2 linked regions of the Homo sapiens genome follow. The protein of the gene in region 2 purifies or fractionates together with the protein of the main gene of each other region. This does not show direct contact. Each region holds a gene or a part of one and is shown on either strand. Other genes may lie near its edges.

Evidence for each region.
Region 1: the proteins of PTDSS2 (region 2) and HTR2C purify together in Homo sapiens (co-immunoprecipitation; one large-scale study listed by IntAct). This does not show direct contact.

Annotation. Positions count from the first base shown.
Region 1 is NC_000023.11:114,587,086-114,590,585, forward strand, and holds part of HTR2C (5-hydroxytryptamine receptor 2C isoform a precursor), read left to right. Parts: intron 1-2,504; exon of another isoform or gene 2,505-2,900; intron 2,901-3,500. UniProt on the Homo sapiens protein: G-protein coupled receptor for 5-hydroxytryptamine (serotonin).
Region 2 is NC_000011.10:453,279-456,778, reverse strand, and holds part of PTDSS2 (phosphatidylserine synthase 2), read right to left. Parts: intron 1-3,500. UniProt on the Homo sapiens protein: Catalyzes a base-exchange reaction in which the polar head group of phosphatidylethanolamine (PE) or phosphatidylcholine (PC) is replaced by L-serine. Catalyzes the conversion of phosphatatidylethanolamine and does not act on phosphatidylcholine.

The sequences.
Region 1 (3,500 bases), on a different chromosome or scaffold from region 2:
AAGGAAACGTCATCCCTCTCCAGCTAAGGGAAACACAAAAATTAAAACAAAATTTGGGGGAGAGATTATAGTAACCAACATTAAATATCCTCAGCTATTCTTATTAAATTGTTCAAGGCCTGAGATTGAAGGAGGTTGCAGTTTGCTGAGCCTGCTGAAAGATAAATTAATTCCCAGGTTTTAATGGCTCCTGAAGCTCCAGACTATTTGTCCAGTATTATTAAGGAGCATCTTACCACCTCACTTTCATAGCAATGGAATACCTCACAAAAGGATGATGTACGTGTACTGAGATTATTTTAGTAAAGCATCTGATACAGCTTAGTATTGTCTAGTGGAAGAACTGCTAAATTATGTTCCTCTAGCTGCCTGGTAGCCATGAGCAAACTAGGAAAACTTCATCATAAATTGAAGTTAATAATATATTATTGTGATATTTTATGTCAGTATCATATATAACCCCACCTGATTGTTGTGAAACAGATGGGTATTAAGCACTTTGAAAATTTTAAATTATTGCACTAAGCAACATTTATTATTTATTTGTTAGCATTCTAGGCTACCTATGTCATTTCATCTACATATTGTACTGTTGAACCTCAAAAAGAAATCATCAATCTCCAGTCTAATGTGTGCTCAAGTTATGGATCTCTCCAACACTGCCATTCTTCAAGACATTTTAAGAAGGCTTTTTCATATACTGAGAACATTGCTGCAAGACAGTCTAGTCATCTCCATTCTAGACAAACAACATTGAAAACAACCAAGTGGTTAAGCTGCATCATCATTTGGCAAGTCATTAGCAGATTTAATACTAATGCTCACCTGCAACAACTCTTTGCTAATCACTTCTGACATTTTAATGCACAAACGACATAGTGAAATCAGGATTTCAAATAAGATATACACAAGATGGAATTTTAATTCTGTTTTTGTCTCCTACCTGGCATCTCTACTTCAACCTCGCTATTCATTCCTCTTCTCAGCTGTGGCTAAGACAGTGTCATCTGCAGTTTCCTAAAATAGTTGCGTATTATAGCATTGTACATATAGCTGGCATTTGAAACAGTCATTCTTCTTAATTATGGTTAACCTTATGCATAGATGACCACTTACATGGTCTAATTTGAGAAGCACTCGAAAGGCCTTCTGGTCCCTAAATTAGTAGCCTTCATGGTTTTCCATATAACTTGAAATTCTACATTCAGGAATTTCCCTCTTTCATCTTAGTCACTGTCTCCTTTAAATACAAGTACACCTTTGGGTAACATACTGTTATTATTACCTATTAAGAACTATGCATAAATTTATTGAAAGCTATTAGAAAGCCTTTAGAACTGCATTGTCCAGTGCAACAGCCACCATATATGGGTATTTAAATTCAGAGTTGAATTAGCGTTAATGGCAAGGTGTGGGGTTGAGCTCAATGTAAAAATAAAAAGTGAAAACTGAACACCACTGAAACCAAAGATAATGTCAACTAATATCTAGACAAGGATAGCAATGAATGAATTGGCTAGGATTTCCTTTACTTTTTCATAAAACATGATGTCTTCTTTAAACTAATCAGTAAACGCTTACGAATAAATGTCAGTGTTCAAATCTTTTGCAAGTGTATTTTAAACTTACGTATCTCCCATTTTATCTCAGTAATCAAGACTCACTGAATACTCTTCAATTATAGCTTCCTGTAATCAAAGTAGTAAGACTTGCCCAAATTAGCAAGTAATTATTCTTAAGAGGAGAGGTATAAAAGATGGTAACAGTGGCCACTATTTATTGACATTTACCATGCACTACACAGTTCTAAGAGGTTTACAGGTATATAACCATACAAGCCTGATGACTACCCCATGAGAAGGTACTACTATTATCCAGTTTGCAGTTAGGGAAACTGAGGCATACAAAGAGGTTAATCTGTTCAAACTGAATGAACAAAACCAAGCTTGAAACCAGGCAGTTTTATTCCAGAGGCCGTGGTGTTAAACAACAAACTATTGCCTCTGTTTAGAAATTGGCTAATTTTTCTTTCATACTGTAACAACTAGTCTTTTAACAGAACAAATTTGCATGTAAATGTGAGGATATTAATGGACAATGTCCATTAATCCTCGATATGCTGCTTGGCAAGGCAATGAGACAGACATGCAACATTTCATCTAGAGATTCACCTACCAATAAAGAAGTAGAGCAAATGAGAATGTACTGTTAATGCTGAGAGACTGAGGGACAAGAAGCTGAGTGAAGCTCAGGGGAGTTACAGAGATAATACAAAGACAGAAATGAAGTCAGGGAAATAATGCTATTGTATGTAGAGATGACTGGACAGGCAGATGTTACTACTGTGAGTTGGACCCACAGGTTTCTACTACATGTAACACCACAACAAAGGCCATTCATATTTGTCATTTATATAATATTGCCTACTTGAAATTCAAGCAGTAAAATAGAAGCTCTGAAGGTCTAAGACCGACTGACAGAAGGATCAGTAAAAATCGTTTATCTCTTTCCGTACCGATAGTGCTCCCGAAAACATGGTGAATGTTCCTAAAACTCACAAGACTTAAAGAAGTGTGGCTAGCACCAACCCCACAAAACGACACAGTACAAGAAGGGCAAAGATTCTCTGTATGCCCAGGGAAAGCAGCATTATGACAGGCAGCGCAGTGAATATGGTGGGCAGACTAAGCCAATTTTTCGGAAAAAAGCTAAAACTACAAAGAATATTGTGCTAAGGCTTGAGTGCACTGATCCCAACTGCAAATCTAAGAGAATGCTGCCATTAAAAGATGCAAGCATTTTGAACTGGGAAGAGATAAGAAGAGAAAGGTCCAAGTGATCCATTTCTAAGTGTCATCTTTTGTTTTATTATGAAGACAATAAAATCTTGAGTTTGTGTTAAAAATTATTTATCATATATCAGGAAGGTTTCAAGTCTTGTCTGATCCCATTTGCCATGTATTTCCTTTTCATACTAGAGTCAGGAAAAGTAATTTGATAGCTATGACTTGGAAAATAGGTGCTATAAAAAGTAACTGCCAGTTTTTTAGTTTACTGATCTGAGCCCAGGTAGAAAAACCATATCTGAGTACAATACTTAGACTAAAGTTATTTCAGGGTAGAAAGACCATACTTGGAAAAATTCTAAATATGATTAAAGTCTTTTTAAAAGTAGGTTTTTAAAAATTCAAAAACCAAACCAATTACTTCCATTTCTTACTTCCATTTTAAATTGACAAAAAACCTGATCCGTGATTAAAAAAGAATTTATTGCTAGAAAGATTGGAGAAGTCCAGTACTGTGGTATGTAGCTTTCTCTCCCAAATGTATCTATATTCTGTCTGATCTTCAAGGTCCGTTTCAAGCCCCACCTCTTGCAGGAAGCTTTTGTTGACTAGCCCACATATATGATAAGTGCCTTGCCCATAGTAGGTAATCAGTTAACATATCTTGATTGATTGTATTGTATTCCAATGGTTAAAGTAAAGGTGAAAGAAGAT
Region 2 (3,500 bases):
CTGCCCACAATCACAGCAGAGAACCCACGTCAGAAGGCCCTCTTAGGCCCCCATTCCTAAGGGTGCCTGGATTCGGCGACCCAGAAACTCACCCTCTGCTGAACACTACACTTACAGAACGTGTCCTCCTGGAGACAGCCCTTGAGGGGAAACGGGCTGGGCTCAGCTGGGGCCCAGGAGTCCCCTTGTCCCTGGCCTGCCCCTCCATGAGGCCCACCCTTTCCTCCATACAGGTGACATCAGATTTCGGTGAGGAGAGTAAGATGACCCCGGTTAGGATAAGAAGAGTCAGGAGTGTTTGGGGGCAGGTACCGTGGCTCACACCTGTAATTCCAGAGCTTTGGGAGGCTGAGGCAGGAGGATCACTTGAGCCCAGGAGTTGGAGACCAGCTCGGGAAACATAGTGAGACCCTATTTCTACCAAAAAAAAAAAAAAATTAACTGGATGTGGTGGCGCATGTCTGGTCCCAGCTACTTGGGAAGAGGGAGGGTGAGGGGAGATTACTTCGGCCCAGGAGTCGGGGACCGCAGTAAGCTGAGATCACATCCCTGCACTCCAGCCTGGGTGACAGAGTGAGATTCTGTCTCAAAAAAAAAAAAAAAAAAAAGAATGAAAGAAAACAGAAAGAAAGAAAAACCAAAACAACAAGCAGGTTTAGATCGCAAAGCCAACGACGTGATGACAGCCAGGAGCGCGGTGGCTCTGGCTGTGTCCGTGCCCCGGGCCAGGGCACCTTCATGCCGTGTGCGTGGTGCCCGCAGGCAAGTCAGGGCCGGTAAGTGACACTGTGAAGGTCATGCAGCAAGGCGGGGGGTGGGGCCCGGAGCCTCCTGGACACTGGGCCATCACAGCCATTCCCTGAGCCCCCGCCCCAGCCACACCCGGGAGAAGACACAGCCTGCGTTCCTGAGCCTTCCTTCCAGTGGAGTGAGACCAATACAGGAGAGCTAAGAAACCCTACACGTTATAGAGAAAAACAAAAGAGGGATGGGAGTGGTTAGGGAGGTTAAAACAACTATTTTTGTTGCAAAGCCAGGTCCCAGTAAAACCACGCCAGGAGGGCTCGTGGCCTGGGAGGCATCTCCGGAGACCATAGCAAGAAGGGAGCGCGAGGAGCAAGCACTCTCGGGCTCAGCCTCCATCCCCAGCAGTTCTGAGAAACAGCAGGGACCTCTCCAAAGGGTGCACATGTCTGAAGTGACCTTTGGAGGAGCCAGGGACAGTCTCATCCTGGGGCTTCCTGACGAGGTCACCTTGTAGGAGGAACAAGGTCAAGGGGCTCCAGACACCCAGAACCCCGCCAAGGGCCCACAGCACAGACAGACAGGGTGTGGTGTGCACGGGAGCAGGACTCTGCCTGGCTGGAGTGCAGATGCCGGGACAGGAGCCTGCTGTGAGGGAGGCCTCCAGTGGGGAAGCTAACAGGGCCTCCACAGGACCCTGTCTTGGAACCACACGGCCACCCCACGTGAGGGGTTCTCACTCTGGGCAGTAATGTCTCTAAGAAAAGAGGGGTGAAGGAGCCCCAGCCTAAGGGAGGCTAACCGTGGAAGAGACAACAGCCCATCAACCTGCTCACATGCAGAATGGGAGACCCAGAAGCTAGATCAACGTGAGGACACCACTCAACCCTGTTCTGCAAGAGACCAGCAGGAAACCCCTCGTCATCTCCATGTGGGCTCAGGAAGAAGATGGAAACGACCAGGCCTCAGGGACACCCAGAATGCCACCACTCCACACACAGGCCCACTGGAGGAGGAGGCTGCACTCGGCCCCACCCTGACCCTCGGACGTGCCTGCAACCCAGTCAGCATCTCCCAGATACAGCACAGGCTCCCATTCACATGCAGAATCCCAGGAATAAACGCAAAGCTCAAGGGATGGGGTGAGCAGCCTGTGTCCCACCAGCACCAAGTTCCACAGCACACAAAGACAGGATCACACACTAACACAAGTTAAAATTGAAACTTGACTTCTTTTTTTCTTTTTGAGATGGAGTCTTGCTCTGTCACCCAGGCTGGAGGACACTGGCGCGATCTCTGCCTCCCAGGTTCAAGCGATTCTCCTGCCTCAGCCTCCCAAGCAGCTGGGATTACAGGCGCCCGCCACCACACCCAGCTAATTTTTGTATTTTTAGTAGAGACCGGGTTTCACCATATTGGCCAGGCTGGTCTTAAACTCCTGACCTCGTGATCCACCTGCCTCGGCCTCCCAAAGTGCTGGGATTACAGGCGTAAAACTTGACTCCTTTAATACGACTTTCCACGACAGAGACCTTCCTGTGGTTTCTAAAGTGGCCACCAACCCAACACTCACTCCTTGTGTAGCCCAGGGAAACGCTGATCATTGATCAACCCTAACCCAACACCATCTTTCCATTTCCCCAAAACACAGAGATTACCTGAAATATAAAGGTAACCCTTCGCCCCTTCAGGTAAATGTGCACACTGTCATTGAGGTGGCCACCGAGTGCCCAGCACCCTCCTGGCCCTGGGGAAGCAGAAATGGGAATGAAGAGGACCCAACAGGAAGGGAGGCAGAGGGTAAGGGACCCAGAGAAAGGGCACCAGGCACAGCAGCCCTGCAGGAGGACACATCTCAGAGCTGCTCAAATCCAACGCTCCTGGAAAGTAAGGTCCGTATTAGTGAGCTCCAGTCCTTGTCCTACACGCAGCACGACGTCTACACATCTTGGAAGTGACAGAGTGCCGCTCAAGATAGCATGAGACTCTCAAGGGAAGAATTCCGTGTCCCTCCCAGGACGCCAGGTCTGTTCAATGGCTCCTCCCACCCGCCTGCAGACTCTGCAGGACGGTGTATGTCCTGTGATCAGACACAGAACAGAGCTGTGATCAATCCTGGCAATTCAGCCACTTCACTAGGGTGAGGGCGTGAAGACAGCTGGCTCCCTGCCATGGGGAGTGGAAAAGACCCAGCTGCCTCCTTGGAGATGGTCACTCTCATGTCCACTCTCATGGTGGGCAGGGAGGCCGAGACCAAGAGGAAAACGCGGCGTCGTCGTCCAAAGGGCCAAGGAAAGGCCACGCCTGGATGGGCAGCCCAAGGCCTGCGAGAGGCTCCTGGACCGGGCACTGGCCCTTCTGGCTCTGACCAGCAAGACCAGAAAGACTTCATCTGGCTACTCGCGCCTCCCAGGTGTAGGCAAAGCTGGGAAAGCCCCGATCCAGGATGATGGAGAAAGGCATCTTCCAGAAACCTGGGGTATCTGAAGGTCAGAGGTCACCTCACACATAAAGTCCTCAGGTCACTGAGAAGGCTCATTTGAGGCACCCCATTCCAAGACACAAGCATACAATAAAAACTCTCAGAACATCACAGTGGCCCCCAGCTCGGGAACTGGTTAGCAAGTGTGGTCATCCGAAGCTGCTTCAGCGTCTCCCACAGACAGGCGGCAACGTTCACAGGCACCTCGCCAGGGTAAGGGGTCCCCAAGTGTTCTCCCAAACAATTTCCAGACCGCATGAGCTGCCACATCTTC